Regions from separate parts of the Homo sapiens genome. Here regions 2, 3, 4, 5, 6 and 7 are each reported to be linked to region 1. Evidence: microRNA targets listed by miRTarBase, many of them from high-throughput screens and not tested one by one. Region 1 holds a microRNA gene; each other region holds the end of a gene's coding sequence.
Evidence for each region. Region 1 holds the annotated microRNA hsa-miR-340-5p (UUAUAAAGCAAUGAGACUGAUU, at 1,313-1,334, opposite strand). A microRNA usually pairs through its seed, bases 2 to 8, with sites in the 3' UTR of a target mRNA and lowers its output. Matches are read on the target gene's strand: a 7mer-m8 pairs with bases 2 to 8, a 7mer-A1 pairs with bases 2 to 7 and ends in A, and an 8mer does both.

Region 1 (3,000 bases):
CCAGGCTTCAACATTCTGGACCAGTTTGGCATCGAAATACCTCCAGCCTCTAACAGTTGTCCAGAGGTCTGCCCACAAGCACAGGCTATGCAAGTTAATTACGAGGACAGTCTTAAGTTGCCTTATAGTTACCTAGACCTTTCCCCTACATAATTTCCAGAAGTAGTAACAGTGAAGGAATTGAATACCTCTTCCTATGGACAGCAGGAAACTGCTATCCCTTTCCTCCTCCACAAAGGAAATAACTTCCCACTGTCTTTTAAGGAAACAGAGAAACTTCTATCAATCTATCAGCGATTGTCCTTTCATAAGCTGAAGCTGCCGGTGGCAACATGTAGCTTCTACATTTGCCTTCTCCAGAGAGCCCCTGAGAGAGACTAGGGGTCATTAGAAGGGAAATAAATATTTTATTTTGGGAAAGAGAAAATTATAACCACTTATTTGAATTTGAATAAGGTTTGTACATATCAATGTAAACCAACAAAACAATCAAGCAGAAGTCCCCAAAACTTGTCCTTTTCAATCCTTCTTCAATGAATAACACATTGAAATATTTGGTTTTACATGTTTCATTTACCATATTTAGCTAAAAGAACCATCTTTGTGTTACATGCAGTCACAGAAGACTACACGCAACTGAAAAGAAATTCAACAGGGCTGGGCGTGGTGGCTCATGCCTATAATCCCAGCACTTTGGGAAGCCAGGGCAGGTGGATTGCTTGAGCTCAGGAGTCCAAGACCAGCCTGGGCAACATGGTGAAACCCTGTCTCTCACAAAAACAGGAACATTAGCTAGGCATGGTGGCACATGTCTGTGGTCCCAGATACTCAGGAGGCTGAGGTGGGAGGATCACTGGAGTCCAGGAAGTTGAGGCTGCAGTGAGCTGAGATCACGCCACTGCACGCCAGCCTGGGTGACAGAGCAAGACCCTCAAAAAAAAGAAGAGAAATACAACAGTAAAAGGAGTTTTATGGAAAATGTAACCCAATGGAACATATACCTTTTTACTACCTTACTCAAAATTGTTACAGCCACTTTATTAGAACAGCAGTTTACCAGAATACCGATTAAAAATCTACAAAAAACTATAAAATTAAAGCAAGCAATAAACATCTAATTAATATCTAATTACCTTTCTGAAATAAGAGTTGTGATCAGTAAATTAGAGACAATCACAAAATAATGCTAAACCGCTTTAAATTTCCCTTTAGAAATCTCTTAAAATGTTGTTCAACGGGCCATGATCTGTGGTATAAGATACCAGGTATGGCTATAAAGTAACTGAGACGGATCCCACAAACGACATATGACAATCAGTCTCATTGCTTTATAATCACACCAGGTACAAACGGTTTTAGAAATCAGTTGAGGCTCCCTCTTGAAGACTCAAGCTGGAAAAGGAGTAGGGAAAGGAGTAGGGAAAGGAGTAGGGAAAGGAGTAGGAAAGGAGTAGGGAAAGGAGTAGGAAAGGAGTAGGGAAAGGAGTAGGAAAGGAGTAGGGGAAGGAGTAGGGAAGGAGTAGGGAAAGGAGTAGGGAAAGGAGTAGGGAAAGGAGTAGGGAAAGGAGTAGGGAAAGGAGTAGGGAAAGGAGTAGGGAAAGGAGTAGGAAAGGAGTAGGAAAGGAGTAGGGAAAGGAGTAGGAAAGGAGTAGGGAAAGGAGTAGGGAAAGGAGTAGGAAAGGAGTAGGAAAAGGAGTAGGAAAGGAGTAGGGAAAGGAGTAGGGAAAGGAAAGCTGAACAGGTAGCCAAGGAAACCAATCCATGTGATTCTATTCAAAGAACACTAAATAAGAACACCAACTAATTTCAACGGGAAAGCTGTTTGGGAAAAGAAGTGTGTAATTATTTCAACCATCCATTCAACAATATTTATTGAGCACATACTATGATCAGGCTCCTTTCACCTCTTAAAGAGAGTAGAAAATTACCTGCTCTTGATGCAAAAATCCACACGCCCTCAGGAGCAAAGGGGGAACCTTTTGGACTAGGAAGAGAAGCCGCTCGCGGTGGCGTCATTACACCAGCACAGAGAAGAGCCGGGCAGAGGAGCCCGACCCTGCCGATCGGGCAGGAGGACAGCAGAACGAAAGCCCGCCACCAACTTGCAAAGGACTGGAGTTTTAGGTCTTAAATCTTTTACAGAATCTGGCGAAAGTTATATAGGAGTCCCCTCCTAGGAGAAAGGGCCTTCTCCCCATACTCCACCCCTAAAGCCTGATAGGGCTCAAAGACCCTGACCTAAAGCTGCCTCAGACACTTGACTTTTAAGGATCTGAGGAGCTCTGGCCCAGTTTCACGCCAAAGGAAATGTAGGCTTCACAATAAAGGGCCGGTCAGAGGAGGCAGTGACTGAAAAGAGTGAAGAATAATTAGACTGTAACGCTGTAAATATCAAAGCACATTTGGGACATGCCCCACCACTCCCATGTCCCAGGCCCTGGGCAAACACTGCTAGTAAGTCACGGATGCGGCCACGCTCCCACGCACTTCCACGTCTGGCCGCCAGTACTAACTGTCAGAGATGGCAATCCAGTGAAAGCCCATCTGTGATCCCTGCTTCCAACTATTTTCTTGAGAAACTTCCCCCACTGTTATTCTTTAACAGGAACTTCTGTTTCCACACTGCTTGAGTCTGGCTACTTTAATAAACAATTCTATTCTTTCCACTTTCATCCTGAGAATTTTCAAACCCATAGAGCAGTTCCAATACTGTGAGAACACTCATGGACCTTTTATTTAGATTTGTCAACATTTTGTCCTTTCTATATGTATTTATTTTTGCTGAACCAATTAAGAGTAAACTGCAAACACATGACATTTTATTCTTAAATACTTCCACGGTCCCTCCTAAGAACAAGGCTAGCTACGTGGCCACAATTCATTTACTTATCCTCAAGAAATTTAACCCTGTGTTCTTTAATAGATGGTCCATTTTCAGGTATCTGTGGTGATGACTTTAATAGCTGTTTAACTTGTTTAGTTTTGTGTCCAGGATTCAAT
Region 2 (4,647 bases), not on the chromosome of region 1:
CTGAGTGATTCTGAACTCAGTCATCTTTGGTTTCTTAATTGCAGTGAGACCACTGGGCTTTATTTTGGTTCCTCTGCTGGCAACTGCCTTCAGGCAATAAGTTGGGGAAATCACAAGGCTCATCACCTGTTTTCCCTCTCTTGGGGATCATAGCCCTGCATTACCTGTAGTCCAATGTTTGAAAAGGGTTGTTTCATATATTTTAGCTCATTTCCTAGTTGCTTATGATAGAAGGGACAATTTGGAAGTCCATTAATATACATGAAGCTATGCTTTGGTAGAAAAATTGTGAGTTTTTATAATGAGCAGAAGTCGAACAATACTTTTACTTGTCTAATAAATTCTGTTTCCTCACTACACATTCTGAGAGGTTTTCAGAAGACATAAAAACAACTAACATATATGTTTCTCCCAGTTCTGAGAAAACAAAAAATTCTTAATAGAAGTTAATTCTGAGTAAATACATAAGTCTGAGTTGCTGTACTTACTGTATTTAGAACTGTTAAATTAATTTTGGTGAAACGATTTTCTTTCAATTTAATTCAATATTAAAACTAGCTATCCTTCATTTCTTTCCCAGAAATTCTTCAACAATACCACCCTCCCCCCCACACACACACGCATGCATGCACACACATTCTCTCTCTCTCTCTCTCCACTTTCAAAATAAAAGGGTGGTATATCTCTTGGTCGTACAGATTACCAGGATATAAAATTCCATAACCATCTTTCATTTCACCAAAAACGAGGTAAAGAAAATATTACCACTGATAGGGTAGAAAATATATTGTGAGACACAAGAAAAGAAACTTGATAGCAAAAGAGTTTTAATCAGTAGAGATCTTAAACTCAATACAAGGCAAGAGGAAAGGACATAAAAATCAAGCGTGGGCTTGCTAAATTCAAGATTTAAATATATTGCCTTTCTTTCACTACAATCACAACTCAGTTAGGTAGATACTTTAATTCACATTTTACAGATGAGAAGATTCAGAGTTTAAGCTTCCCAAGGACAGAAAGGTAAGTCAGTGGGAAATTCCATGTACATTCCATTACTAAATGCCACATAACTGTTTGGATAACATAAGAAGAGTGGGTCATTATATGATACCAATTAGAAGATATTAGGGATGGTGGAGGCAGTAATTTCTGGGATAAGAACTATAATTTACAGAATAACCAGACATCATCTGATCTGGTGAAACCTGTGCATTCCCACAATTAGGCTTTTTCACACTTTCTCTCTTTAAATGTGCAACACCTTCCCCATCCCCTCTTTACTTGTAGCAGTTGATTTTGCTTCTTATATCCCGAGAAAGCAACTACCACCAAATCTACCAGTCAACTCATCTATATTTGAACTTAAAGATCTTTATGTTAGAATGGAATCTATCCATGTTCCAGCTTAGGCGAAGCCCTTCTGAAGATATCCATTCCTTCCTTCCTCATCAAATTTTCCTTCTTGACTAGATTAAAAAATTTCAACCAGTAGGCATAATCAGAACCTTTGTCTCATAATGAAAAGATAGTTAATAAGGCTCATCAATTGTCCGTAATTTTGTTTTGGTTCATGTCTGTCCAAAGCAACAGAAAGGACCACATTTTTGCTAAGATCTCTTCTAGTGCTATAATCCTAGGTGATTCTAGTAAAATATTTATAGAGTGCTTATTCTATGTGAGACACTGTGCTAACACTTTACATGCATTATCCTGCTTAATCCTCGCAATCCTAAAAAGAGGTACTATTATAATATTCATTTTATAGATAACAAAACTGGGGCTTAGAGAAGTTAAGTAACTTGTCTGAGTTTACTAGCTAGTTAATAGCACAGTAGGATTCAAACCTGACTGGCAGAGTTTGTTATTAAAGCATTGTACCATGTATTTTGTAATCTCAATTGCATGTACATTAGTGCAAATGAAAGTTGCCTGCCTTTATTATTTATATATTTGTCTATAATACAAAAGCAAAATTATATTGTTACAAAACCCCAAATAATTTTAATCTCAATTTGCAACATAATCCACATTTTACATATCTATAAACAATAAACGTTTTAGTATTCAAATGCCTTAGAAAGAATTCATTTTGGTTCAATAATTTTATAGCCAGGATAAAGTCATATTTATAATTTATAATTTTCTGTCCAGGTTTTTAATAAAAATCAGTAATGTTAAATGGAATACTATCATTTTATAGAGAAACAGTATGAAATTACATTGAGAAATGAGAACAGTCATTAAACATTAAGATTTTATTACAAACCATGCATTATATATTTCTTTACACTTAAGGAATAGATATGAAACAATCTTGGAGTAAAAATTAGAAGGCAACTTGCTTCAAGTTTGTACCAAGTCAATCAAGCAGAAACCTGAAGAACCTTGTTTTAAGATGAGAGTCATTTATACTTGGCAGGCATTTTCTTCCAATGAAAAAATAAAGTCAATGTGCCATTATCTTGACACTTATAAAAATGTTTATAAAAAGCATTTAGGCCATTGATTCTCACAGTTGGCTGAATATTGGAATCACCTAGATTAAAAAAAATACTAATCCCTATACAACATCCCCAAAATTCAGATTTAATTAGTGTAAGTTAGGCCCTGGGCATATAGGCTGTTTTAAAATTCCTCGGGTGAGTCTAATGTGTACCAGTTTGAAAACCACTAGCTTAGAGACCTGTTCCATCATCATAGAAGTCACTCTTTAGCTGAATGATTCTATATGCCCTGATTTCAGTGGGTAGTGTTGTTATTTTAAACATCTGATAGGTGTATCTCCCTTGATTAAAAAATAAATACCTTATGGAAGAGATTATATGTTTTATTTATCATTGTCTCTGCATATCTGGAACAACGAAAGGCACATAGCAGTTGCTAAATAAATATCTTTTGAATGAATATATGATTGCCTTATACTTCTTTTATATCCCCATCTTCTAATAGATTATGAAAACTAGAATTCAAAATATATATACTGAACAAATGAATGACTGAAGCAATTGGGGATAATATTTAAGGCAAAACCAAATCTGATAAAATATACACATATTTTAAAAACACATACATATATATAAATAGATCAAAAGTGGAAAAAGAATATATAAAAGAGTGCAACATTTGGCAGCTGAGAATTATTTCATTGAGTTTTCAAATATTCTTCACATTCTTATACTTAGAAACAAAGAAGTAACCCCAAACAACTAATTCATTAGCTAATATCTCAGAACTTGCACATTTGCAGATAAATTTTCTTTTAAGAACAGAATTATAGTTTAATCCCTAACACAGCTCAGTTTTCAAAATTCAAGTAAATAAAATTTTAGCACACATCATGATAGCCTTACTGGATAGCTGTGTTAAAAACAAAAAGTATTTGGTATCATCTATTGTTATGTGCTCTCAATTGAGATCTAGTTAGTTTCCTAAGAGTCTCACATTGATAACTATTTTGGCACTTCCTTACATAATGTGTTTATTTAGAAATACCTTATTAATGACAGACTTCCTTTTGAGTAGCTACATTCTCAGATATGGCTTCATTTATCAAAGTTCCACAAGTATTACATAATTTTTAATTCAGTTAGTTATCTTAGACTACGGAACTTTGGTTTTCTTAAAATCAGCATTGGTTGCTTGATTGTAGGTTTGTCACCAAAAAGTGCTGCTTCACTCTCCGTGGTTGGAAATCTTTTCTGATATATCAAAGGATATTCCTTCTGAAACTTAAAAATGAGGTGAGAAATTAGAAGGTATTTAACATTATTTCCCAAGCTGAAGCAGTGCTCAACATTTTATAAGAATTCAGTGTTTTTCTCAAAGACGTAGTATAGAGATTAGTATCCTTTCATTTTATCCTTGCCTTTCCCTCTCTCTTCTCATGTGAATACTATAAGATCTCTTAGATCTCATTAACATTAACATTTTAGGATTCTTTCTCTTCCGATGTTAATTCTCCCCCTAAATTCCAGATCTTCTTTCCCACTGATAAAACCTATGAAGGGCATAGGCATCTAGTATTCATATTTCTTTCAGTGTCTCAGACTTAGAATTAGACATGCCAAAATCATGTGGCTACTGGGCTTTCAGAGCTAAAAATTCTAAAACAGTGATAAGTCACTCAAAGATACATATCCATACCTTATAAATTGCTTTCCCAGGCTAATCCAAGCTATAATTATACAAAATACCAGTGAAAAAGGAGAGTATATATTATTACTGTTGGTATTATTTTAAAATTCAGGATAAAGAGCAAAATCAGGTAGGTACTCACATGTTTTAGGTTAACGCACATATACAAGACATCATAATATATAGTCTATATAACTCAAACTTAAAATCTAAAATATTAAAATAAGAAAGTAGATTCTAAATGTTATTAACAACCAGGAACAGCACATTAGAAAATGTTTACATGATTGAGAACTTGCTCATTCTCTTACCTGTTTTAGTTTTTTTCTTTTCTCCTTTAGAGGTAAACTCCTGTTTTTAATAATATTTTCTAAAAGTTCTGCAATTGCAGCTTGAGAGGTAGAAACTTTTTGCTCATCAAACTCCTGAGCACTAATCTGCTTACAGTATGAGTAAGTTGGCAAAGGAGCAAATAGTCCATCTCCAGGATTTTCAATCTGTAGTGATCAAAAT
Region 3 (4,647 bases), not on the chromosome of region 1:
ACATGCCGGGCGTGGTGGCTCACGCTTGTAATCCCAGCACTTTGGGAGGCTGAGATAGGTGGATCAGTTGAGGTCAGGAGTTCGAGGCCAGCCTGACGACCACGGAGAAACCCCATCTCTACTAAAAAAATACAAAAACTAGCTGGGTGCGGTGGCTCATACCTGTAGTCCCAGCTACTCGGGAGGCTGAGGCAGGAGAATTGCTTCAACTTGGGAGGCGGAGGTTGCAGTGAGCCGAGATCGCGCCACTGCACTCCAGCATGGGCAACAGTGCAAGACTGTCTCAAAAAATAAAAAATAAAGAAAAAACCGTATTAAAACCTAACGGTACTAATATTAATATTCATCTAATTTCATGTTTTGGTAAGTAATTATTAATCAGTATGATTTTGATTACATCATTCCAGCTACTTACTACTAATATGTAAGATATTCTGGAGCGACATTAAAATTACTAGTAAATGAAAACATATTCAAAATACTCTGTAGATTTAATGTCCAAAGATTACTGCCTCTTTTAGTGTCATCAGGTAAACCTATCAATGTTCTTTTCTAATGCTATATTTAAATGGAGGGAGGAGGCTTAATGAATAACGAACAAAATCTTGACTTTCAGGTTTTGTGAAGGAATGTTTAAATTTCTGAATACAGAACCCTAAGACTGTTACAACCCTCAGGACACAAATATCTATAGCGGCAGTTCTCAACGAGTGGTCCAGAGATCTCTGCAGTACCTGAGATATTTTCATGCTGCCTATGAGGTTAAAGCTATTTTAAATCAGTCTTTTTCTCGAGTGTACATGAAATTTTCCTGAGGTTACATGATGTGTGACGGTATCATTCTGATGACTAATGAAGACACGTATTTTTAAGTTTTAAAGTTTTAATTTCTAGCACAGTAAATATTGATAATATAAACGAAAAGATCGAGTCCTCAACTTTTTTTTAGGAGACAGGGTCTCGCTCTGTCACCCAGGCTGGAACACAATGGTACAATCACAGCTCACTGCAGCCTTGATATCTTGGGGTCAGGTGATTCTCCTGCCTCAGCCTCTCAGGTAGCTGGGACCATGGGCACACGCCACCATGCCAGGCTACTCATAAAATTATTTGTAGAAGCCGGGTGCAGTGGCTCATGCCTGTAATCCCAGCACTTTGGGAGGCCGAAGCAGGCAGATCACGAGGTCAGGAGATCGAGACCATTCTAGCTAACGTGGCGAAACCCCATCTCTACTAAAAATACAAACAATTAGCCAGGCATGGTGGCGGGTGCCTGTAGTCCCAGCTACTCGGGAGGCTGAGTCTGGAGAATGGCATGAACCCAGGACGCGGAGCTTGCAGTGAGCCGAGATCACACCACTGCACTCCAGCCTGGATGACAGAGAGAGACTCTGCCTCAAAAAAAAAAAAAAAAATTATTTGTAGAGACAAGGTCTCTTCCCTACGTTACCCACGCTACTTTCAAACTCCTGGGCTCAAGTAATCCTCCCACCTCAGCCCCAAAGTGCTGAGATTACAGATTACAGGTGTGAGCCACCACGCTCGGCAAGAAAATCTTTAAATACCTAACCAGTAACACTAATGTTCAAGGGACCATGAGTACACATTAAAAAAAAAAATCACATCTAGGGCTCATTTTGTTAGCAAAAATATTAAAAATTCAAACAATCAAGATTAGCATGGCCCCTGTGCCAAGAATGACACGTAAATTCTTGAAGTGTTTCATTTTTTAAGTCACATCTAGATAAACAAGAACTTTCAACAGCTGAAAGACCCCAGGCAACAACAATCCCTATTTGTTAGAAATCCAACTAAATCAGTACAGTTGTGACAAAAAGGGTAAAGAAAAAGAGAACAAGTAAGCCGAATGAAGGAGGCGGCAGGAAGACAACTATGGGTAGAAGCAGTTCCCTTCAAACAACCCAAGCAAATCCTGCTTCTTTGGAACTTACTCCTATTTCCCTCCTGCACTCATTATCCCTCTTGTATTGCTGCTGTAACTCTCGCCATCTGAACTTATCTGCTGCTTTGCATTTTAATTGTTTTCTGAGGGTTTTTTTTTTTTTTTTTTTGAGACAGAGTTTCACTCTTGTTGCCCAGGCTGGAGTGCAATGGCACAATCTTGGCTCACTGCAACCTCTGCCTCCTGAGTTCAAGCAATTCTCCTGCCTCAGCCTCGTGAGTCGCTGGGATTACAGGCGTGCGCCACAACGCCCAGCTAATATTTGTATTTTTAGTAGAGATGGGGTTTCTCCATGTTCATCAGGCTGGTGTCGAACTCCTGACCTCAGGTGATCCGCCCGCCTCAGCCTCCCAAAGTGCTGGGATTACAAGCGTGAGCCACTGCACCCAGACGCATTTTAATTCTTAACGTCTGCCATCCTCTACCCAAGTACAGACCACTTTAGTGTCCCTATCAAAGGGGAGAAACGTTGCCCTTTACAACTTTTGGGTTATTTTAATACTGTGTTGTCTATTGACATTTTTGGCTCATGTTTCTAGAGTAAACCCACAAAAGTAAACAATTATAGACAGAAAAAAGCTGACCATAATTTTACACAGGTGAAAATGCCCTTAATTAATGCTCAGAGTAAGTAATAATTTAGGGAAAATAAAAAAAACAGTCATGTAAACTTCTAACTTTTTAGCTAAGACTCAAGACAGCAAACTGCCAAAGCTGCTATGGATTAGCGCTACGTACCAAAGCTAAAGCGTCTCATTCCATAAAGGCCATACCAGAAAACAAAGCACGCACCTGAAAAACCACTGTCTAAATACAAGAAGGAATACACAAATATACAATGGTTTTTGTAAGGCATCAACACAAGCACATTGTTCTTTGAAATTTAAAGAAAAAATTTATTGAAGATCTGAAAAACAATTCCTAAAAGATTGACTTTTCCAGAAAACTAGCTACACAATGCATTGCGTCTATCATGTTAAAACGTGCATTAGACACAAATACAAAAACCATGAAACAAGCCACCATTCTTCAACAATTTGAGCCAAGATAAAATGCCTAAGTAACAACATGGATGACTTGCAAAGGATGGGCTCTTTACTTTAAGCACCATAAAAAAAAACAAAAGCACAAATGGATGAGTGTGTTCAGTTATATACACTGAATTGAACCTTTGGCACTAGGAATCAGAGCATTTTGTCATATAGCATTAACATGTATTATAAAAGTGCGTAGTGTCAAAGGAATAGAACCACCAGCATTCAAAAGCAGCTTTGTCAACTAGGCAATAAAACACTCTACAGCATATCCCTCTGTTGTCCATCATTGAAAACACTGGCAGCAATTTTGAAATGAAAAAAAAAAAGAAAGAAGAAAAAAGGAGCTATTACCCCCTTTTATTTTTTCTCTGTTTAAAATCAAACAGAAAACAAACATCAATTGTTATACACTAACATCTTCAAAGCACATCGTTTGTACAAGAGATAGACTAAGAACAAAAATGTGTTTACGGAGATCCAAACATAAGTGAGTGAGAGTGCCTCTCACACAGCTTTCCGATGGTACTCAGGAGGAGCCACTTCATAATCGCTGGCACTGAACAAAGTTGCAGAATTCTTTGCCAGGTACCTAAAAATAAAATATTCATTACAAAAATTTTTAAAGGTCATTATCTTGATCCAAATCTCTTCCTATATATTATATACATAAGCCACAGAAAACACTTTCCTAAAATACATTAAACCAGACATTCTCTCACAGTAAAACCACACATAATGACAATTCAGGTAAATAAATAAGGTTATACAATGAACAACACTATACATATACAAAGGAATGAACTCTGGAGTTACTCCCCTATTTCTAAACAGCAAAGAACAGTTATGTCTGCAGAATACCAACTTGGGAGCTTGAACCATCTTTAAGAAACAGTTATTATCCTATTACATGACAGCATTACCCTAAAAGAACATCTAGACATTTTCTAAAAAAAAAATCGTTATCAGCCGGGAGTGGTGGCTCATGCCTGTAATCCCAGCACTTTGGGAGGCCAAGGCAAGCTGATCACCTGAGGTTGGGGTTCAAGACCAGCCTGACCAAAGTGGAGAAACCCGTCTCTACTAAAGACACAAAATTAGCTGGACATGGTAGCGCATGCCTGTAATCCCAGATACTCGGGAGGCTGAGGCAGGAGAATTGCTTGAACCTGGAGGCAGAGGTTGTGGTGAGCTGAGATCACGCCACTGTACTCCAGCATGGACAAGCGTGAAACTCCATCTCAAAAAAAAAAAAAAAAAAAAAAAGAAAAGAAAAGAAAAAAGAAAAAAATCCTATCAGGCCAAGCACAGTTGCTTACACCTGTAATCACAGCACTTTGGGGGGCCGAGGCACAAAAATTTGAGGCCAGGAGTTCAAGATCAGCCTGGCCAACATGGCAAAACCCCATCTCTACTAAAAATACAAACATCAGTCAGGCATGGTGGTGTGCACCTGTAATCCCAGCTACTTGGGAGGCTGAGGCCCAAGAATCGTTTGAACCCAAGAGGCGGAGGTTGTAGTGAGCTGTGATCGCATCACTGCACTCCAGCCTGGGCGACAGAGCAAGACTCCATCTCTAAATGAATAAACTTTTTTTTTTTAATTACATAAAAGGGAACGTGAAATGTCAAGTAGTAGAGCACATTCCA
Region 4 (4,647 bases), not on the chromosome of region 1:
TAGTGAAGTTAAACAAACATTGGGATACCGACACAGACAACTTGAGACAGTTTTTTTAATCTTTTAATCAGTGTAGCTATGTGCTGCTGCTGCTCAAGAGCTGGATCCATACAGGTTGTGTGTCATCTGTCCTCTTGAGGTTCAGGAGATTCTAAATTGAATATTCCACGGTTTGGGACAGCATCCGGAAGTTTTCCCTATGACTTTATATTTTGTATTATGTCAAATGTTATGGCAGGGCCCAAATAGCATAGCCACAAGTTTGGTTTATGTGGGCATAAAATTCTAACCAAACCCCAGACATAGGGAGTCATTTGGAGAAAGCCTGTATGTGGTGTTTTAACCTAATAAAGTTGATGAGAGAGAAGGGGAGAGGAAGCGAACATAAAGCGGGTCAAGTGTAGTGCATCTTTTGTATCTCAGGCGTGGCTTCTTCAGTGGACCAAGCTGCAATGCAGTATTGACTTGACAGAGCCTCTACTTCTGTCTCAAAATGGCTCCAAATGATTTCTGTACTGCAAAATAAAGCCAAATTCTGGAAACTACTGCCCGGTGTTGGTTTGTGTGTCCTGATTGCAAGGGTCACAGCTGCCGTGCTTCCTTTGGTAGCACTGGAGTCAATGCCAGTCAGAATGCTCAGCAGCGGAAAGCGTGGGTGTCTTCTGATCTGGAAGGATCACAGCAGGTCCTGTCGTCTGGCTTCCCTGTGAGTAGACCTCGAGTTTTATTCTTGACACAGTACCATTACTAGACCTATCATCTTTGTGCAGAAAAAATAGTGTTTAATGATTTTGCTTGTAGCAGCAGTTATAAGGGAGTAAGTGAACTGTCAGGTAGAGTAGGTGCTTTAGTAAATAATTTTTGTGTAGTTGAAATGATAAAGTGTTTACATATAAGGCCCTTTCCCCTGACAGTGATGAGCCTCACGGCAGATGCTGTTGTTTACCACAGATAAACACTGACTCTTCAGAGTATGAAGGAGACAGACTAAGGTAGATGATGTGTTAAAGGAACTAGGGTGGTGATTTAGATTGTTATTCATATTGCCAAAATGATGGAGCTTCTCGACTTCAGTTGATGTTTTGGGCTGGATCATTCTCTGTTGATAGGGTTGATTGTAGCAGCATCCCTGGCCTCCACACACTAGATGGCAACAGCACCATCTTGGAATGACAACCAAAAATGTCTCCAGATGTTGAGAACCACTGCTTTACCTGTATGATAAAATTATCTGAAGTCCCAGCAAGCCTTTTTCTCTTCCCATGCAAAGGCCCAAGCTGGGTTAGTAATAAGTGAAAAAAGAAAAACCACGCATCTTCATATTCTTCATTCAACGTATTTACTGAATACCTTGTGTGCCAGGCCAGTGGAGACAAAGATGATAATGGTAGTTACTGGGATAACTCAGTTTGGTGAACACATGATGTGGTTTGGTTATTAGTAGAGTTACAGAAAAGGTAGCATGGAAACTGAGATGGCCTCGTGGGTGTTGGAAGGCTTTTCAGCAAGGGGAGGTGAATGTTATTAGGTCCAACCTGAAAGGTGCATATTTCAGGCAGATAGATAGGTGTTTGGCATCTTATAACTGCTCACTTTCCTTTTCCTTAGTAATCTGAAAGTAATTCACTGTACTGAATAGTTAATGGTTCCCTTAATAGACTCTTGTCCTTGGAAAAATAAAATGAAATGACTGGGGTTCTATTAGTAACTGAAAAATTGTCAACAATTAAAACTCTAAAACCTACTCATGAGAAAATAAAGCTCTTTTGTTTAGGAATAATAAAAGCCGACTTAATGACTTCTGAAAGAAGTAAGTGTCCCTGTAAAGGCCAGGTGAAACTGCCATTCTTTAACCTGTTACTCGGTGTACTTGACTGCGGAAAGAACCCAGAAACAGAACAGGCCAGGCCCAAAGGATAGAAGTGTAGGTTTCCTCTGGAAGCTTACTGTTCTGCTAAATGACCTAAAAATTGCTAGAACACTCCAGATAAGTCAATTTCTGCTATAAAAATCATTGCAGAAAGAGATTATTTTTAGTTGTCTTTATTTAAAAAATGAAACACATTAGTTACAAAAACCGTTGCTCCAAATAGATACCGTGTATCTTACAAATGTTTTTTGCTTGGTTTTGAGTGTTTACTGTAGAAATTTTCAATATCATAAATAAATGATTATTTCTTTCTCAGAAAGCTGATTTTTGTAGTGTAGTATTTACAAATACCGTAAGTGAAAAATGATAGTTTATAAATTTGTACCATTTAGGAAAAAATGTTTTATGTAGTGTTGTTTGTGTAACAGCAAATAAAACCATTTAAGATTATAGTTTTTACAAGGGTGGTAAAACCTTTAAAACAGAGCATAATGTGCATCGTATGCCTTTCTGACATTAGCATGCAAAAACAAAGCTATTTGTTAAAATAGACTTATTTTTGCTCCAACTAAGTAAACATGTAAAATTATTTTTAATAAGCTCAATAGCTTAGAAGGCATCTTGTTTAAAATGAAAATAATTTAAAACAATATCTAGCACTGCAACCCAAAGCTAACAGACAACTGCAATGCCACTGTGACATATTTCAGCAAAATATAAAAAATGAAAACTTTCCAAGTTGTAGAACATTGGTTTTTCAAATGTAAGACTGTTCACATGTGTATTCACATGTTCACAAGTTTTCCAAAGGGAAAATACTAATTTTTTATTGGCATCATCCATATCCAGGCAGGCTGTAGTTGAGTCACCTGAAGAAACACAAAATTGATAAAGAACTTCTTAAAATAATACGAACAAGAAATATTTTATAAGCGGGATGCTCTAATGGGGAAAACGCCTATGCATTCTAAGGTTACATTATGTTCTGTACTGACGATCCAAGTTAACAGCAAGTGAAAATGCACATTAGATAAAATAGGTAATTTTAGTAGATGGTTACTTCATTTAGTGATAATTTAGGAATTCCTATTTATGCCAAATAGCAATTCCACCCCTAAACAAACACTTTAAATTTATAGCATGAAGTATGTAAACAACAGTTTCCCAACTGTTTCCCTTAGACACAAATGTCAATATTTGCCATCAACAACTCCAACTCACATGGGAAAGTTACATAAAAAGTGTTCTTACCAATAGCTACTCCTAAATGGAGCTGCTATTTTTTCTATGTTTTCTATAAAGTTATTTACATCTGTAACAAGGATTCCACTATTTTCAAAGACTTCTCTGGGGATAGTAGGCTTGTCTGTTAAAAAAAAAAAAAAACAACTTTTGGTTAATATAATTAATGTACTTTTATATAACAGGACCTGGTTTTTTATTTTAAAAAATCTGTGGAACTTCCTCGTGTGAGGGGTAGGGGGAGAAAAGGTGTTGGGTTCCAAATTAAGAAAAGATTTGAAGCTTTGGAAATAGATGCCTCCATCGGGGGTGGTGGTTAAAGTACTGAAAAAAAATCCCTGAAAAATGATAACTATGGTTCTTTACGTAAATTTTTCTTAACACTTTTTTTTTTTTTTTTTTAAAGATAGATAGGGTCTTGTTCTGCCACCCAGGTTACAGTGCAGTGGTGTGATGACGGCTCACTGCAGCCTCGAGCAATCCTTCTGCCTTAACCCAAGTAGCTAGGACTATAGGCACACATCACCACACCTGCCAACTTCTGTAGAGATGAGGTCTCGCTAAGTTGCCCAGGCTGGCCTCAAATTCCTGGGCTCAGTGATCCACCTGCTTCAGCCTCCCAAAGTGCTGGCATTACAGGCGTGAGCCACTGTCCCTGGCTGCCCCACAAATTTTTTAAAAGCAACCTCTGCCTCCGGGGTTCAAGCCATTCTCCTGCCTCGGCCTCCCAAGTAGCTGGGACTACTGGCATGAACCACCACACCTGACTAATTTTTGTATTTTTAGTAGAGATGGGGTTTCACCATGTTGGCTAGGCTGGTCTCTAACTCCTGACCTCAAGTGATCCGCCCGCCTCGGCCTCCCAAAGTGCTGGGATTACAGGTGTGAGCCACTGCACCCAGCCCCAGTATTGATTTAAAAAATAATACGGTATAACTACTTATACTGTATTGAGTATTATAAGTAATCTAGAACTGACTTACATACATAGGAGGATTGTGTAGTTACCTGCAAATACTACATTTTATATAAGGGCTTCAGCTTCAGCAGATTTGGGTGATTCTGGTATCCATGGGATGCCAAGCCATTTAGATACCTGATACTCTTCATCAGGTATCTAACTTTGACATTCCTAGAGCTGACCAATTTTGGCATTAACTGAGTAAAATGCGCCTGTGAATTACCTGTTAGGAGGACAGCAAACCTGGCATCAATATGCTGAATTTGCAGGTTTAGCAAACATTTCAGAATTTCTGCTTTTGTTGATGATCGAGAGTCACACTGGTGATAATGAAGCAATTCAATGATATTTGCACTCTGAAATGACTTCAACATTATGTTCTTCTTATGTGCAGTTGAATCCACTCTGTGAAAGATACATAGGCATATTAAAATATTTTTCAGTTTTATTCTTAGGACTTTTTCTTGCCTTCAGTTTAACCATTCAAACTCATGAGTTCCTCTGCCTTTCTTCTTGACGTTCTTTTTCATGACACACTTTGGTTACCTCAAAACATCACAATTGTACCTACTCC
Region 5 (4,647 bases), not on the chromosome of region 1:
TACTTGAGCCCAGGAGGTCAGGGCTCCTGTGAGCCATGATTGTGCCACTGCACTCCAGCCTGGGCAACAGAGTGAGACCTTGTCTCAAACAAACAAAAGAGAACAATTTTTTGAGTTGTGTAAGTCCTGTTGTTCTCATTTTACAGATGAGGAAAGTGAGACTTAGGGGATTTTAAGTAACAAGCCCAACATTGCATGTTTAGCAAGTATAACAGAGCTGGGTTGTTAACTTATACAGTATGACTGTAGGTCTTTCAATTTAGTTGTTGTACTATATTCTCCTTTTATTATAAAATCATAAAATAATTGAATTTCTGTGCTGAAAAGGACCTCACACATTATCCAGTCTAACCCCTTCACTCATTAAGTTCATGAACATAGAGATTGAGATTTGAATTTGGCCAAGTAATAGAGTTAGGGATAGACCCAGGATACTCTGACTGCTAGTTTGTGCTTATTCTGATTCTGGTGTATTACTTCACTAGGCCTAGAACTGGTAATAAGAGAACCTCTATTCTAGTTCCACTCTTTAAGGACATGGAGCAGTGTCATAGATGTAGTTTGTGCTCATTAATTATTTGTTCTAATGAACAAATGAATGAGCTCTTTTAAATGATGTGATTATTGGCAATACCTGATTTATGAGTAGGGCCTCTTCGTAAGAATTTTCCTTGTTGGCCTCCTAAGTAAAAAAATTACCCTAAACTTACTAGTAGTTAAGGAAGAAAAGCTCCACAAAGTTCAGCTCCAAGAACGTGACAAAATCTAAAGTAATGAGCCCAAGTGATAGTCCATTTATATAGCATTTATTGTTTGGGTTTGGCTCATTTTTATATCATCAAGGATATATGGTATAGTAGAGTAATCCAGAAAAGAGAACATATTGTATGGGCATAGGATGCTAAAAAAGCTCAGTAGACAATTCTGGCCTTCTCTGTTACATAGATTATCTGACTCCAGAAAAAGAACGCGTACAGGAAGATCTTGGCCTGCTGCAATACCACATTTGCGGAGAAGAAGAGGTCGTCTTCCAAGAAGAGCACTCCAGACTCAGAACTCAGAAATTGTAAAAGATGATGAAGGCAAAGAAGATTATCAGTTTGATGAACTCAACACAGAGATTCTGAATAACTTAGCAGATCAGGAGTTACAACTCAATCATCTAAAGAACTCCATTACCAGTTATTTTGGTGCTGCAGGTAGAATAGCATGTGGCGAAAAATACCGAGTTTTGGCACGTCGGGTGACACTTGATGGAAAGGTGCAGTATCTTGTGGAATGGGAAGGAGCAACTGCATCCTGACTGTAGGACTGAACATTATGTTCACTGCACTCTGATTTTCTGTAGGTACAGTTCAAAGCCCTAAAGGAGTCTGGCTTTTACTATCTTTCTTAAAAAAAAAAAAAAGTCAAAAAAATTCAAAAAAGGGGATGATACTAGCCTTAACATGTACCTGTCAATGTTATGGATATTGTCATAAAAAGGTATCTTTTAAAAATCAGAACAGAGACTTAATTTTTTAAATCTTAAGATTTGTAGAATGTTTCTAGGATAGGATATTAAAAATGATTGAAACCCATGCATGGTGTTAGACAATTTTTCTAATTATTCCATTGAGTCAGTTTTTTGTGATTAGTGATTATCAGAGCAAACATCATGTAGATAGCACAAGTATTTGGAGAAACGTTGTTTGTTTTGTTACCAAAATGTTGGAAAAATTTATTTCAATACCTTTTAGATTTCATAAAGTGCAGTGTATATAATGCCTACTGAAAGACTGTAAAATATTGAAATTTTCTTTCAAGCAAAGTGTAAAAAAATATATTGAGCCTGTAAATTGCTCTGTGACTAGACTTCATTGTCGTCTTAATATATTCTTGCATGTGCATATATATACACACGTGTATATATATGTGTGTGATTATGTGACCTATGCAATACAAATTATGGGAATGGGCAGCTTTGGAGTATATATCCCATAATTCTTTTTTCAGGAATAGTTGCAGTATTTACACAGCAGCATTTCTTCTCAGGCTTTTATTGGGTGCTGTTGCTTGCTATGTATGAAGAGAAATGTGTCAGACAAGTTTAGTGTGTTCTGAAGAAGGGTGTGAACAACAGTGTTCATGGGCTTTTAGAATGCTTTTCACTTTTAGTCCTTGTAACTCAGCTGTTCAGTACCTAAAACAAATTCAAATAATATGAACATTATCTCCTACTAGAAGTAACGTTTTCAAGTTTTCATGGCACATTATGATTGTAAATGTCTCTCATTTTTAACAGTAAGTCTATAGGAGTCCCGTGAAGATTCCTGAAATGTCTGTAGTAACTGTTAGTCATGTTTGAATAAGTGTAGTATGAACAAAGTATTTTATTGCACAGGGTTAACAAACAGTATGTTGCCAGCTGAGGCTACTGCTGTTTTATTACAACATTACCTCTTGTTTTTATAAAGTGTACCAAGATTTAAATTGATAACTTTATTTTACTTGTAAAAAAAAAGTTTCTTTTATCACCAGTGTTACAGTTGTCTTCTGTTTCTTTTTGTTTTGTTTTATTTGTTTTCCTTTTTAGCCAAAGAGTGAACAGAAGATTTTCTTATTTTGGTGGCTATTCATTTTACTTTTAAAAGTGATTGGTGGATTTTAGACTAATTATGGGGGAATTTGCCACCAAAATAAAAAATATGTAAAGTGTAGTGATTACAGAGTGGTTAAAATGTGGGTTAGTACTTATTTATTCCATTAATTGATTATTTGACTGTTTATAAAGAAAGTTGCTTTATTTCTTTAAACATCTTCAAAAGATGATCCTTTCTTGTCACATTATAGCCAAAAGAAGCAGAGAACTTCATTGTCTGCATTTGGTTCCTGGTTGGCCAGGTATAAATGAGCTTTACAAAAGTGCAAATTAAAAACTGTTACTTCTGTTTACCTCCACCAAAACTTGATTTTCCCCTAGCTATTAATTTAAGGTTGCCTTTCCTGCAGCTGCAATATTTTGAATAACACACAGAGTTTGTGTTGATTTTTGAATGTTTGTTTATATCTAGGGGTAATGAAAAATGTAAATCCCGTGTATCCTTATTCACTCCACCTGTATCATATTATTTCATTTTCCCCAAAGTCCTTTAATTCTAACTGAACACCAGCAGTATTTTTAGAAATTTTTCTTTAACATACTTGGAAGATGATTTATCCAGCTGAACTGTCTTTAGACGTAATTATTGTGAATGTCTGTTTTATTTTCTCATGGTGGTTCACATGGCTCTGATGTTCAGTTTGTATTTTTGGAATTGCTTTACTTAGAAATTAAAACAGACCAACATTAAATGTGTGTATTTTTTAAAGAGCTAATGAGTTTTGCTTCTGTATTTGCTTGAAAATACACACTAGTGCAGTAGTTGACTGCTTTTATTTAGCTAGGGTGGTAAGGATTTTCTAATTCCACTGCTAGTATGTTCACTTGAATTAATCTTTATAAAACTTTGCTTTCATTTTCTTCATCCCTCTTATAATATTAATAACTATCACATGTTCATCTTAAGTGGTCTTAAAGTACGTTTAGTGAGCATGTACACTTTATATTTGAAAGACAATATATCTCTATTGTGTCCCCAAACTTTAAAAAATTCAGACTTAATTTTCCAACTATGTTTGCTTCTTACATAGAATTGTTAGGGTTCATATAAAAGGATTTCCTGGGCCAGGTGCGGTGGCTCACACCTGTAATCCCAGCACTTAGGGAGGCCGAGGCGGGTGGAACATGAGATCAGGAGATTGAGACCATCCTGGCTAACACAGTGAAACCCCGTCTCTACTAAAAATGCAAAAAAATTAGCCTGGTGTGGTGGCAGGCGCTTGTAGTCCCAGCCACTCGGGAGGCTGAGGCCGGAGAATGGCGTGAACCCTGGAGGTGGAGCTTGCAGTGAAGCAGTGAGCCAAGATCGCACCACTGCACTCCAGCCTGGGCAACAGAGTGAGACTCCGTCTCAAAAAAAAAAAAAAAAAAAGGATTTCCTGTACTTTTAAAATAAGTTTTGCCCCTAGGCATATAAAAGATGTGGAAACAATATACCTTACTCATTGTAATTCCATTTTTATTCAAAACAAATACATTTTTATAAATATTCTGCTACTAAGTGATAAATGTGTATTCCTAGACCCTTAGACCACCAAACTAGAGCCAGAATATAAGCTATCAGAGTTACTCTATAAATTCTAATATAGGGGTGATGAAGCCAGCTCTTGCTACATATATTCTTTACTAAATATTTAACAGAATTGAATGTTCACTGATGTGTTAGAGTTGAAGGTGCCCCCGGCTTTTTTTTTTTTTTATTTGCAAGATATGTCCAAGTATGCATGGTTGTTTTCTATAATGTGTATGTTGAGTATATCTCTATTATCTGTGTTGGGGGTAGAACTAACTGTTTTGGGCCACTTTATTGAGTTTCTACTAGGTACTATTAAATTTTGGTTGGAATATGATCTGACTTAGGCAGTTCTACCAGACTGTTTTACATTGTGGTTCTAGAGTTGTTTGAATGAGGATGTGATGACAAAGAAGATGCTCATGCAGCGTTGGGAAACAGTTTTGTTTTTTTGTTTTTTTAAGCCCTGTTTTTGTGGGGAGATTTTTCTTAG
Region 6 (4,647 bases), not on the chromosome of region 1:
TGAAACTCCTCTATTGGGAACCTTTTGTCCGAGGGCCCATCTTCTGGGACTTGGTTCTCCCAAGACAGTACTGTCTTCAAGAGGCAGGTCACACTTGCATTATAGATGGCACTCCTAAACCTCTTTTTCTCAACCCAAAGAATCCCTGTGGGACCAGCCAGCCTTTTACTGCCACCTAGGATCTATGATTTCAAGTCTTGCCTAAAAGGGGTGCTCTCTGGGGTTCTCAATCCTAGATTATGTGACGTTTTATGTGTGGTAACAAATTAATGGGAGATAATGGTGCCTCTGAAGGGCCAGAGAGATTTTGATTATGTGAAGATGACACCTAGTGCTAACTTCTTTAGGAAATAAACACTATGCAGATGCACTAACGCTTCCTTTAATGGCTTAACACACTCTTCAATTGACTTTTGGGTAAAGCTAAAGGTTGTGTTGACCAGTTTCGTCTGCGAGGAGCCTATAGAAGCCACGTCTAAAGTTGAAGTAGCTGGAAACTGCAACTTAGAATAAGATTGCTTCTTCAGCCACAACTGTAGTGTCCCTGCCACTTGCCACCACAACACTGTTCTCCTTTTTCAACTGTAGAGAATCTCTTTCACCTGTCAAACACGATTATGCAGCCCTCTCTATAGCATGCTCTACGGTACATATCACTACAGCTGTTTTATATGTAAAAGAGACTTACAAAGACATTACTATGCATAGTGCCTGATACAGAGACCAAAACTTTAATTCCTGCAAAATTTTTTTTTATAGCAATGGCAACAAGTGAACGAGGACAACCACCACCATGTTCTAACATGTGGACCCTTTATTGTCTAACTGATAAGAATCAACAAGGTCACCCATCACCGCCACCTGCACCTGGGCCTTTTCCCCAAGCAACCCTCTATTTACCTAATCCTAAGGATCCACAGTTTCAGCAGCATCCACCAAAAGTCACTTTTCCAACTTATGTGATGGGCGACACCAAGAAGACCAGTGCCCCACCTTTTATCTTAGTAGGCTCAAATGTTCAGGAAGCACAGGGATGGAAACCTCTTCCTGGACATGCTGTCGTTTCACAGTCAGATGTCTTGAGATATGTTGCAATGCAAGTGCCCATTGCTGTTCCTGCAGATGAGAAATACCAGAAACATACCCTAAGTCCCCAGAATGCTAATCCTCCAAGTGGACAAGATGTCCCCAGGCCAAAAAGCCCTGTTTTCCTTTCTGTTGCTTTCCCAGTAGAAGATGTAGCTAAAAAAAGTTCAGGATCTGGTGACAAATGTGCTCCCTTTGGAAGTTACGGTATTGCTGGGGAGGTAACCGTGACTACTGCTCACAAACGTCGCAAAGCAGAAACTGAAAACTGGTAGGTACACTTTCCTACCATAATATTTAGGCCTTAACACACGCGCGTTTTAAGCATTTTGATTTCTTGACCTGGAGATTTAGATATTTAAAAACAATTTGAGATAATAAGTTGGGGTATACTCTAACTTCCTGGGGTTACTGTCTCCAACTTCCTAAACACCAGTTACTAATAAATGCACAGCAGGTGCACTGTACCACAATGACTCATGCCAAGGATTTGATGCCCGATACATGAAACTAATGAACTCAGTCACCTTTGAATACCTAGTCCATTGTCTAACAAACACAGTGGTAGATGCGAAAAGGGGATGGATTTTTAAAACAGGACAATTTAGTTGGCATGTTTAGGGAGTAGGGAGGAGCTGGGAACAACTGAAGAGCAAGGTAAGAGAGAAAGTCTTGATTATGTAACAGAACACTTAATCCACGTGGTAAGAGGCAGTAGATGGAGAGGTGAGAGGCAGAGTAAAGAGCTAAACAACAGCTGAGATTAACTGTGGATGAGACAGTTTGATCACTCACAAATCATTTTTTAATTTTTCATTCATACTTAATGCCAAACCTTATGCTAGCCCTCCTCCCCTATGTGTGGACAGTAGCGTGAGCAAAAACATGGGACCTACATCTTAGTTGGGGAGACAGACAAAAAAGTGTATTACAACATGTAAAGTATTATGGAGAAAACAGGGTGCTGACACAGGCCTACCTTTAATTGTCACTATTAGGTAGGGTGTTCAGGCTCAGATGTAAACTGACACCTGAGTATGAGAAGAAGCCAGCTTTGCAGGGTGCGCCCAGGCTGTGTCCTAGGGCAGAAAAGAACACGGGGGTTCCAGAGACAGCGAAGTAGGCCACAGTGAGACTGGCTGGGGGGAAATGGGGAGATTATATAAAATGAAGAAAGATTTTGATTGAAAAGTTCAATGGGAAGCCAGCACAAGTGTTTTAAGCAGAAGAATGACTGATTGCTGTTTTTATTAGATCACTCAGGCTGCTATGTGGAAAACAGATTAGCAGTAAGGGGGAGGTCAACAGAGGAAGTAGGGAGATGAGTTGAAAGTACAGAAGTGTTATACACCAATTAGTTACTTAAAATAATTAGTGGGAATTTTAAGTTGAGCATCTGAGAGATCGACAAAAGCTAGATTTCATTCATAAGCAGGCTCAAGGACCAGTTACTATATTTAAGGAAAGACAAAATTATCTTATCTTAGGGCTACATGTACTTCTTCAACCTCTTTATGGACTTCTGGTGGAATTGCCAAAATGGCTGTTTTCAGCATGAAATTGCTGGGATATTTCAGTGCAAAAGCCCATAGGTAACTAGTTAAGCTTAGTAACAGAGCAGGAGGGTAGACCTTGCATTTCTAATCTTCTGCTCATTTCACATGTTCGGTTTCATGTTTAACTTTAAACAATTCAATGTTTGCATTATTCCTAACAGATCCAGAAATGACGCTGTCTGGGTCAACATTTCAGGGAGGAGTCTGCCACCAGTGTAATGTATCAATAAACTTCATGCAAGCATACAATTTTGTATTGCTTTTTTTTGTAATTTAGGAGGACTACAACCAACCAACCAAACACAAAAGGCCTATCAATCATCTATCTTTTCAGACTTATAAAGCAATAGCATTTTCCAACTCCTATGTGTATACTTTTTTAAACTATTCCCACTCTAACAGATCTAGTAACAAATTTTCTAACCAGGTAGTTCCACTTGATTCTGCATTTGAGATTCACACCGAATGAATACGGTAGCACCTCTCTATGCTGTATCTATCTAGCATTCAGTTAATCTCTGGATAGATAAATGCCTACTTACCACTATGCATGCCAGGTAACTGGTTATCATCTCCTTGACCCTGGGAGCTATGGTACCACAAGGACTTCTTTCGTAGGACACGTCTAACAATTTAGGATAGTATTAAGTGGCAACATTAGTATATTTGAAATTTTAAAAGAAACCACACTTTTGGGGAACATTCTAAAGCCTTTATTTAGCATCAGGTAGATTATTTCATTATAACACTTGTTAACTTCAAGACAGCAATTAAAATCACGGACTGGCAGCTACCTAGGCCCCTGGGAGCAGTATCTCAGTCTGGGGTTTGGGTGGATAAATACTATAAGATTTAAGATGAATGTGCCCCAATTAAAGGGGCAAAACTACTGTACAGTAGGTCTCCACACATATTTTAAGTACACAGGTACTTTGCAAACTTGAAATGCACAAGGCCTCCTTTTATATAGTTTGATACTTACATGAGTGCAACTTACTTTCCCTAGTGGCATTTGCCACTGGAAGTGGAAGCATTTAACAAGGTTTGTCATTATGTAATGGTGATTAAAATCTATATTTCTAGGGCATTTTTGTGAATTGCTAGATTTTATACATATTTTCAGTTCAAATGTAAACTTAACCATTTTAATGATACTGACTGCAGAAAACTGTAAAAGTAAATTCAGAGCACTAAGTAAATGAAATACTTTTCCAGTTTAATTCTTTAGAATTTTCAAATCAGAAATATCTATTCTGAATATTCAGGCATTTTTTTTCTTCTTGGAAGATGGAAGGGGTAACATTGGGAGGATTAGTATGAATAAAAGCCATCTTATCAATGAAGTCTTTATAAAATGACATAACCTCTATATCTGAGAATAAACATTGTATAGGAGGAGAGTTCTAAATATGTCAAAGGTTACATCTAAAACATTCAAGCATGACAGCATAAAAATATTCAAAATAACTTGATTTGGGATTACTATATAGTTCCATAAAGCTAAAGTTACATTTAGGTATAAACCTTCAGTAAATATGGCAACAGCAACCATAAAAAGCATATTCCCCAGCAGTGTTCTCTTACCTCTATATAAAATAGTATTCCAAATAAGTACATTTTATAGCAAAATTATGCATTTTTCCTAAGACTTTCATCACCAATATCGCCTTATACCCTGCTTTTGTTGGGTGAAATGCAGTTATCTCATGAGTGTTTTTTCATTTTTTTTTTTAAAAGATAAGTAGAAACCAAGGGAAAAAAATTTAAAAACATAGGTTTAAGACTTATTTGTAGATTAGCCAAACACCCTGACTTGTATGCATTTTAATAAATGTCAGGCAAATTGAAGTAATTTCTGTCCCAGTAGCTGCCAGAGTAAATCCAGTCCTGTGCTCCATTGTAGGGATTAGGACCTTGATGGAACCACCTGTTAAAAGAAAAAGGACAAGACTTACAGGGGAAACTATGGAAAATCACAGGCTGTTTCTTCACTAGTTTGCAGTAT
Region 7 (4,588 bases), not on the chromosome of region 1:
GCTCTGCAGCCCAAGCTGGAGTACAGTGGGGTGATCTGGGCTCACTGCAACCTCCGCCTCCCAGGTTCAAGTGATTCTCACGCCTCAGCCTCTCAAGTAGCTGGGATTACGGGCACGCACCACCACACCCTGCTAATTTTTGTATTTTTTAGTAGAGACAGCGTTTCACCATGTTGGCCAGGCTGGTCTGGAACTCTTGACCGCAAGTGATCTGCCTGCCTCGGCCTCCCAAAGTGTTGGGCTTACAGGAGTGAGCCACGGCACCCGGCCCTGGCTGCCTTCCTAATTATTAGCTGGGAATGCTTAGGCCCCTAGTCAGACTGAACTGCCTGGAGATTTTCAAATACTCTTTCCTGCCTCCTTGTCTTGGCAAATACTATAGGCATAGGCTGAAATAAAAATTTTTCTCTCTACTCCCCCAACTCCTACTTTAAAACAGGGAAAATTCTCTGTGGAATTTGCTAGGGTCTCCTCCAACTGGATTAGGCCTCCTCCAATTCTCCTGCTACTCCCCAAACACGCAGACATACAGACACAGACACACACAAGCACACACACACATGCACAAGCACACACGCACACACAAACACAAACACACGCGCGTGCGCGCACACACACACACACATAATTCCTGCCTTATGCTTCCAGAGCATTCTGTCTAAACTCCCATCACACTTCTCACCGTGTGATACCCCTTTTAAAAACCTTTCCTGTTCTTCTGATATGGAGAACCAGGATCCATTCTGGCCATGGAGGCTCCCACATATGGGTGCTTACTGTATTTTTGTTGAATGGGTAAGATACAAATGCTGCCCTGCCCCCCACATCTGTTCTGCTGGGAATCCATACAGGCTGTTCTGAGAAACCCTCATGTGGAGTATAGAAAGGTCAACTAAATACTCTGAAAAAACATGCAATCCTCAGGCCATGGCTTCATTATTAGTTTACTAGCAGATGAAACTTTCTAAGGGAATGTCAATTGCGTACCCTGGTTACCCTCCGATGATGAGAAAAATATAGTCAACCATACACCCTGGACCCCTTTCTCAGAAAATCCTATCTGCTGGACAAATCCCCCTTTGCTGTGGGCCAGGGGATGAACTGAGTGAATAAAATATTGAATCCATGGTTTCTGAGTTCCTTCAATGAACAAACTAAGACCCAAAGCTTACGTGTGGCCTTGTGTTCCAGGATGCTAATACAAGTGTTATTTTAACTGCAGGCTTGAAAGCCTGTATCTAAGCACATCCTTGATACAATTAAAACTATTAAACTAAGACGCTTTCCCCATGTAGCACGTGTAACAAATAAATAGACAAACATACCCAGGTCAGATAAAAGTGATGCTTCAGAGGCCAGGCCTTCCTGTCTTCATGACTGACTAACATAGAAGTATCGTTACTTAAAAGAAAAAGAGAAGCTTGGTTTCTCCTAAAGAACCGGTATAGTCTAGTGGCTGGGAATGAAGGCCAGAGTTCCTGGATTTGATTTCTGGAGTTATTAGCTGCGTGTCATTGACCAAGTTACTGCACCTCTCTGTGCTTCAGTTTTATTACTATATTACACACGCACATGCCCTTAGCATTTATGTCATGGCACTAATTAAGTGATGTATTAGTAATACACAAAAAAAACACTTAGAAAATTGTCTGACTGAGAGTAAACACTCAGTGAAAGTTATTACTGTGATCTCATGATACAAATATGATTAACGAGCTATTTAATCTTTGCTGCTTTCATTTCTTCAATTACAGTGAGATGTCCTGAGATATATTTGTTTATCCTTGTGCCATAAATTTCTAAACTGAACCAATCCTCCCTGTTCTACTGATGTTTATTTTCACCTCACATTAAGTAATGAATGTATTATGAAGCTAAAAATCATCCTTATGCAATTAAATTGATTCCAACTTTTGTTCTCCATGAATGGTAAAGATGACACGTTTGTGATAATCTACTGGATGTGTTATTATTCTCCATACCATTGTGGAGTGCATCCAAATTGCTTTTTAATTTGTCTCCCATGTTACAGCCTTGAAATCAGAAAATAACGTAATATACTGCAAGAAAACAACTTAATACATGCTAATGTGAAAAGAGGAGAAGATATACTTTGTACCCTATTGAAAACAACAGTGGCAGAGTAAATAGTTATGAGTATGTATAATACACTTAACTCTTGAACTACATTTAGCATCCAAGTGTGCTTCAATTTTTGAATAGAAAATAAAGATTTTCACTGATGGGCCCTATCAGGAGAAGGAAGTTATTTCTAGCACACGCAGTGAACATTAAGAAAGCTCAGTTCATAAGGATGGGAAAGTAGGGTTATGGAGCCGAGGGCCTCTTTACAGCCTTCTCTTTCATACTCCCGTAACACAGCACAGTGAAAATGAAACAGGGAAAATTTCTATGGAATTGTCTAGTATGTCCCCAGCCTGGGTTAGGCTTCCTCCAATTCTCCTGCTACTCCGCAAACCCTTTTTCTGTTTATAACTTTTTTTGGAGTTATAGCTGTCTCTACAAATCTCGTGAAAATTATCAATATTCCTCTTAGAAAAATGCACACACACACACACACACACACACACACACAATTTTGCATATTAATGTGTTATCTTCCGGAATGCTCTCTTGGAAAGAACTCATTTTTAATAAAGTGCTTTGCATTATCTTCAGTGAACGAGTAAATTACTATTTGAAAATAGAATTTGCCATTTGATTTTCTTTTTAAAAACATAGTATTTATAATCCTGACTTGTAACCCTCCCAGCAGATGTGAGGTAATTCACTTGTTTTGACTTACTGTGATCAGCATTTTGAAAAACACTTTAGGTGTTTCTAAAATGCTTAACTTGTGGAAAAATTTCATTTTTGTTAGGAAAGCATAGCAGGCATTTACGTATGCTGTCCTAGAAACATTTTATTATAGTTTTAACGGGAAATAAGCAAAGAGATAATATTATTTCTATATTTGTTCCTATTAAACAAACAGTAGTAACACACAGAATCTTGGTCATCACTCAGACTCTAAACCCAAAACATATTGCTTGGGAAAAATAGATGTACACATGTACATAGCTACTGTAATCATAGAAGAAATTTTTCAAAAGTATGAAGAGAAAGCCTTTTAAAACTCATCCTTAATGGATACATAAATAGAAATGCCAAGGAGTCAATCTATGAACTTCTATATCTATATTTTATATTTTAAGATTGGGACAGAGAAACTTCCCAGATATTTGACGTAAGAATTTGTTTTGAAAAAGTTTGGTAATTAATATAAAACTACTCTAAAATTAACTTTTATTGTTAGAGACACATCTTTAGAAAAGTTTGTAAATATCAACATTTACCATCTTATTTTTTCCTTTGAGACCAAGCATCACAGACCAAAAGCCACAAAGTTTACAATAATTTATTATTGTTGCATGACATTTGCCAGTAAAATAAATTATAGAAACTATAGAGTCTTTATAAACTATTTTGTATATCATATTCACTTCCTAATGCTTACTGCAGTAACTGTATGAAATTTAATTAGATTACGTTTTAGCATTAGTCAGAAGATTTAAAAAATATGTAAAATGTTTTCACAGTACTTTGGATTTATAAAAGACCCCATTATTTTAACTTTTGTGCAACCTGTTTGAAATGTATAAAAAACCTTTTACAAACCAAAAGGTGGCGTAAGGTTTTACTGAGTTGCTGAAGACATCTTACTTTCTTGAATTTCTACTTAACATCCATGTGGTGCACTTTTTCAGGCATTGTAATAAGTGCAAATAAATAATCAATTATTGATTTCTAAAAATCTATACCAATAGACAATACTCAGGCTTGGAAATATTTTGAACACTCAGATATAAAAATTCAGTAAACAATTTATGCATGGTATTTTCTCTCCCTGTCCTCCCTCTCCCTCCTCCCTTCCCCTATCTATTTGGTTAAAAAAAAAAAAAAAAGTTCAACTTCGATTTAAGTCCTAGGGCCTGACAAAGTGACCCTGGATAAATGTCATCTCCAGCCATCTGTTTTCTTTAGTTCTCATTACATCTGTCCAGGCTCTTCTATCAGCATCAATCCTTTCCTGCAGGGACGGAAGAGTTTTCAAATCCTTGCTGAAAGCATTTTGTTCTCCTCTGTAACAGCACAGGGCATGAAATTGTTTGGAGTCTTTGTAACCAGTCTGTTCAGTCCTGGTCCCTTTCCAGTCCCGGTCCCTTTCCAGCCTCTGGAGTCCTGACAGAAGAGAAGCTTGTAAGGTAGCAGCAAAATGCTGCATCTGTTAGAATCTCACAAACTCACTTGGTCTTTGAATGTCCATTCTTGGATAACGTCCTTATCCATCCTCTTCTCTTCAGTGAACTTTGATGGAATATTTCCGCAGTTTCAGAAACTGGAAAAGCTTGTCTTTTGTCCTCTTCTTCAAGGCCATCAGGGCACGCGTTTTCTCCTCCACATCTTGATCTATGGCAAAAATGATCTTGGCTCTCTCCTCTGCTTTCTTGTCTCCAGAGTTTCTGAAGAGCCTTTCTAGTGATTCTTGGTCTGTGTTTTCAAAGATGTTGCCCACGGCTTTCTTACG

Region 2: the mRNA of DEPDC1 is a reported target of hsa-miR-340-5p. Seed matches in the 3' UTR shown: 7mer-A1 at 2,482-2,488 and 7mer-A1 at 2,470-2,476.
Region 3: the mRNA of MORF4L1 is a reported target of hsa-miR-340-5p. Seed matches in the 3' UTR shown: 7mer-A1 at 3,181-3,187.
Region 4: the mRNA of TASOR2 is a reported target of hsa-miR-340-5p. Seed matches in the 3' UTR shown: 7mer-A1 at 2,242-2,248.
Region 5: the mRNA of MTF2 is a reported target of hsa-miR-340-5p. Seed matches in the 3' UTR shown: 7mer-A1 at 2,448-2,454 and 7mer-A1 at 2,765-2,771.
Region 6: the mRNA of OSBPL1A is a reported target of hsa-miR-340-5p. Seed matches in the 3' UTR shown: 7mer-A1 at 3,990-3,996.
Region 7: miRTarBase lists TCIM as a target of hsa-miR-340-5p. Seed matches in the 3' UTR shown: 7mer-A1 at 3,610-3,616 and 7mer-A1 at 3,475-3,481.

What each region holds. Positions count from the first base shown.
Region 1 is chr5:180,014,049-180,017,048 of GRCh38, forward strand. It overlaps MIR340 (microRNA 340), which reads right to left and starts at 1,349; the gene lies at 1,255-1,349. All of the region lies in intron 2 of RNF130 (ring finger protein 130), which reads right to left.
Region 2 is chr1:68,473,342-68,477,988 of GRCh38, forward strand. DEPDC1 (DEP domain containing 1) reads right to left here. Exons shown (of 12, transcript NM_001114120.3): 11 at 4,446-4,631; 12 at 811-3,728. The coding sequence ends at 3,591. Among named protein-coding and RNA genes, the nearest start is that of DEPDC1-AS2, 3.5 kb to the right of the region's middle.
Region 3 is chr15:78,895,925-78,900,571 of GRCh38, reverse strand. It overlaps MORF4L1 (mortality factor 4 like 1), which reads right to left. Exons shown (of 12, transcript NM_006791.4): 12 at 2,433-3,589. The coding sequence ends at 3,505. It also overlaps the pseudogene RNU6-415P. Among named protein-coding and RNA genes, the nearest start is that of MORF4L1, 25 kb to the right of the region's middle.
Region 4 is chr10:5,761,121-5,765,767 of GRCh38, reverse strand. TASOR2 (transcription activation suppressor family member 2) reads right to left here. Exons shown (of 22, transcript NM_001321783.2): 20 at 4,297-4,478; 21 at 3,122-3,236; 22 at 2,028-2,739. The coding sequence ends at 2,736. GDI2 (GDP dissociation inhibitor 2) reads left to right here. Exons shown (of 11, transcript NM_001494.4): 11 at 1-545. Among named protein-coding and RNA genes, the nearest start is that of GDI2, 50 kb to the left of the region's middle.
Region 5 is chr1:93,135,725-93,140,371 of GRCh38, forward strand. MTF2 (metal response element binding transcription factor 2) reads left to right here. Exons shown (of 15, transcript NM_007358.4): 15 at 946-3,352. The coding sequence ends at 1,303. Among named protein-coding and RNA genes, the nearest start is that of TMED5, 42 kb to the right of the region's middle.
Region 6 is chr18:24,158,713-24,163,359 of GRCh38, forward strand. It overlaps OSBPL1A (oxysterol binding protein like 1A), which reads right to left. Exons shown (of 28, transcript NM_080597.4): 28 at 3,340-4,569. The coding sequence ends at 4,467. It overlaps CABYR (calcium binding tyrosine phosphorylation regulated), which reads left to right. Exons shown (of 6, transcript NM_153769.3): 5 at 760-1,357; 6 at 2,804-2,888. The coding sequence ends at 2,804. Among named protein-coding and RNA genes, the nearest start is that of CABYR, 22 kb to the left of the region's middle.
Region 7 is chr8:40,153,626-40,158,213 of GRCh38, reverse strand. It overlaps TCIM (transcriptional and immune response regulator), which reads right to left. Exons shown (of 1, transcript NM_020130.5): 1 at 2,904-4,588. The coding sequence ends at 4,361. The region is part of intron 3 of LINC02866 (long intergenic non-protein coding RNA 2866); the gene reads right to left. Among named protein-coding and RNA genes, the nearest start is that of TCIM, 2.4 kb to the right of the region's middle.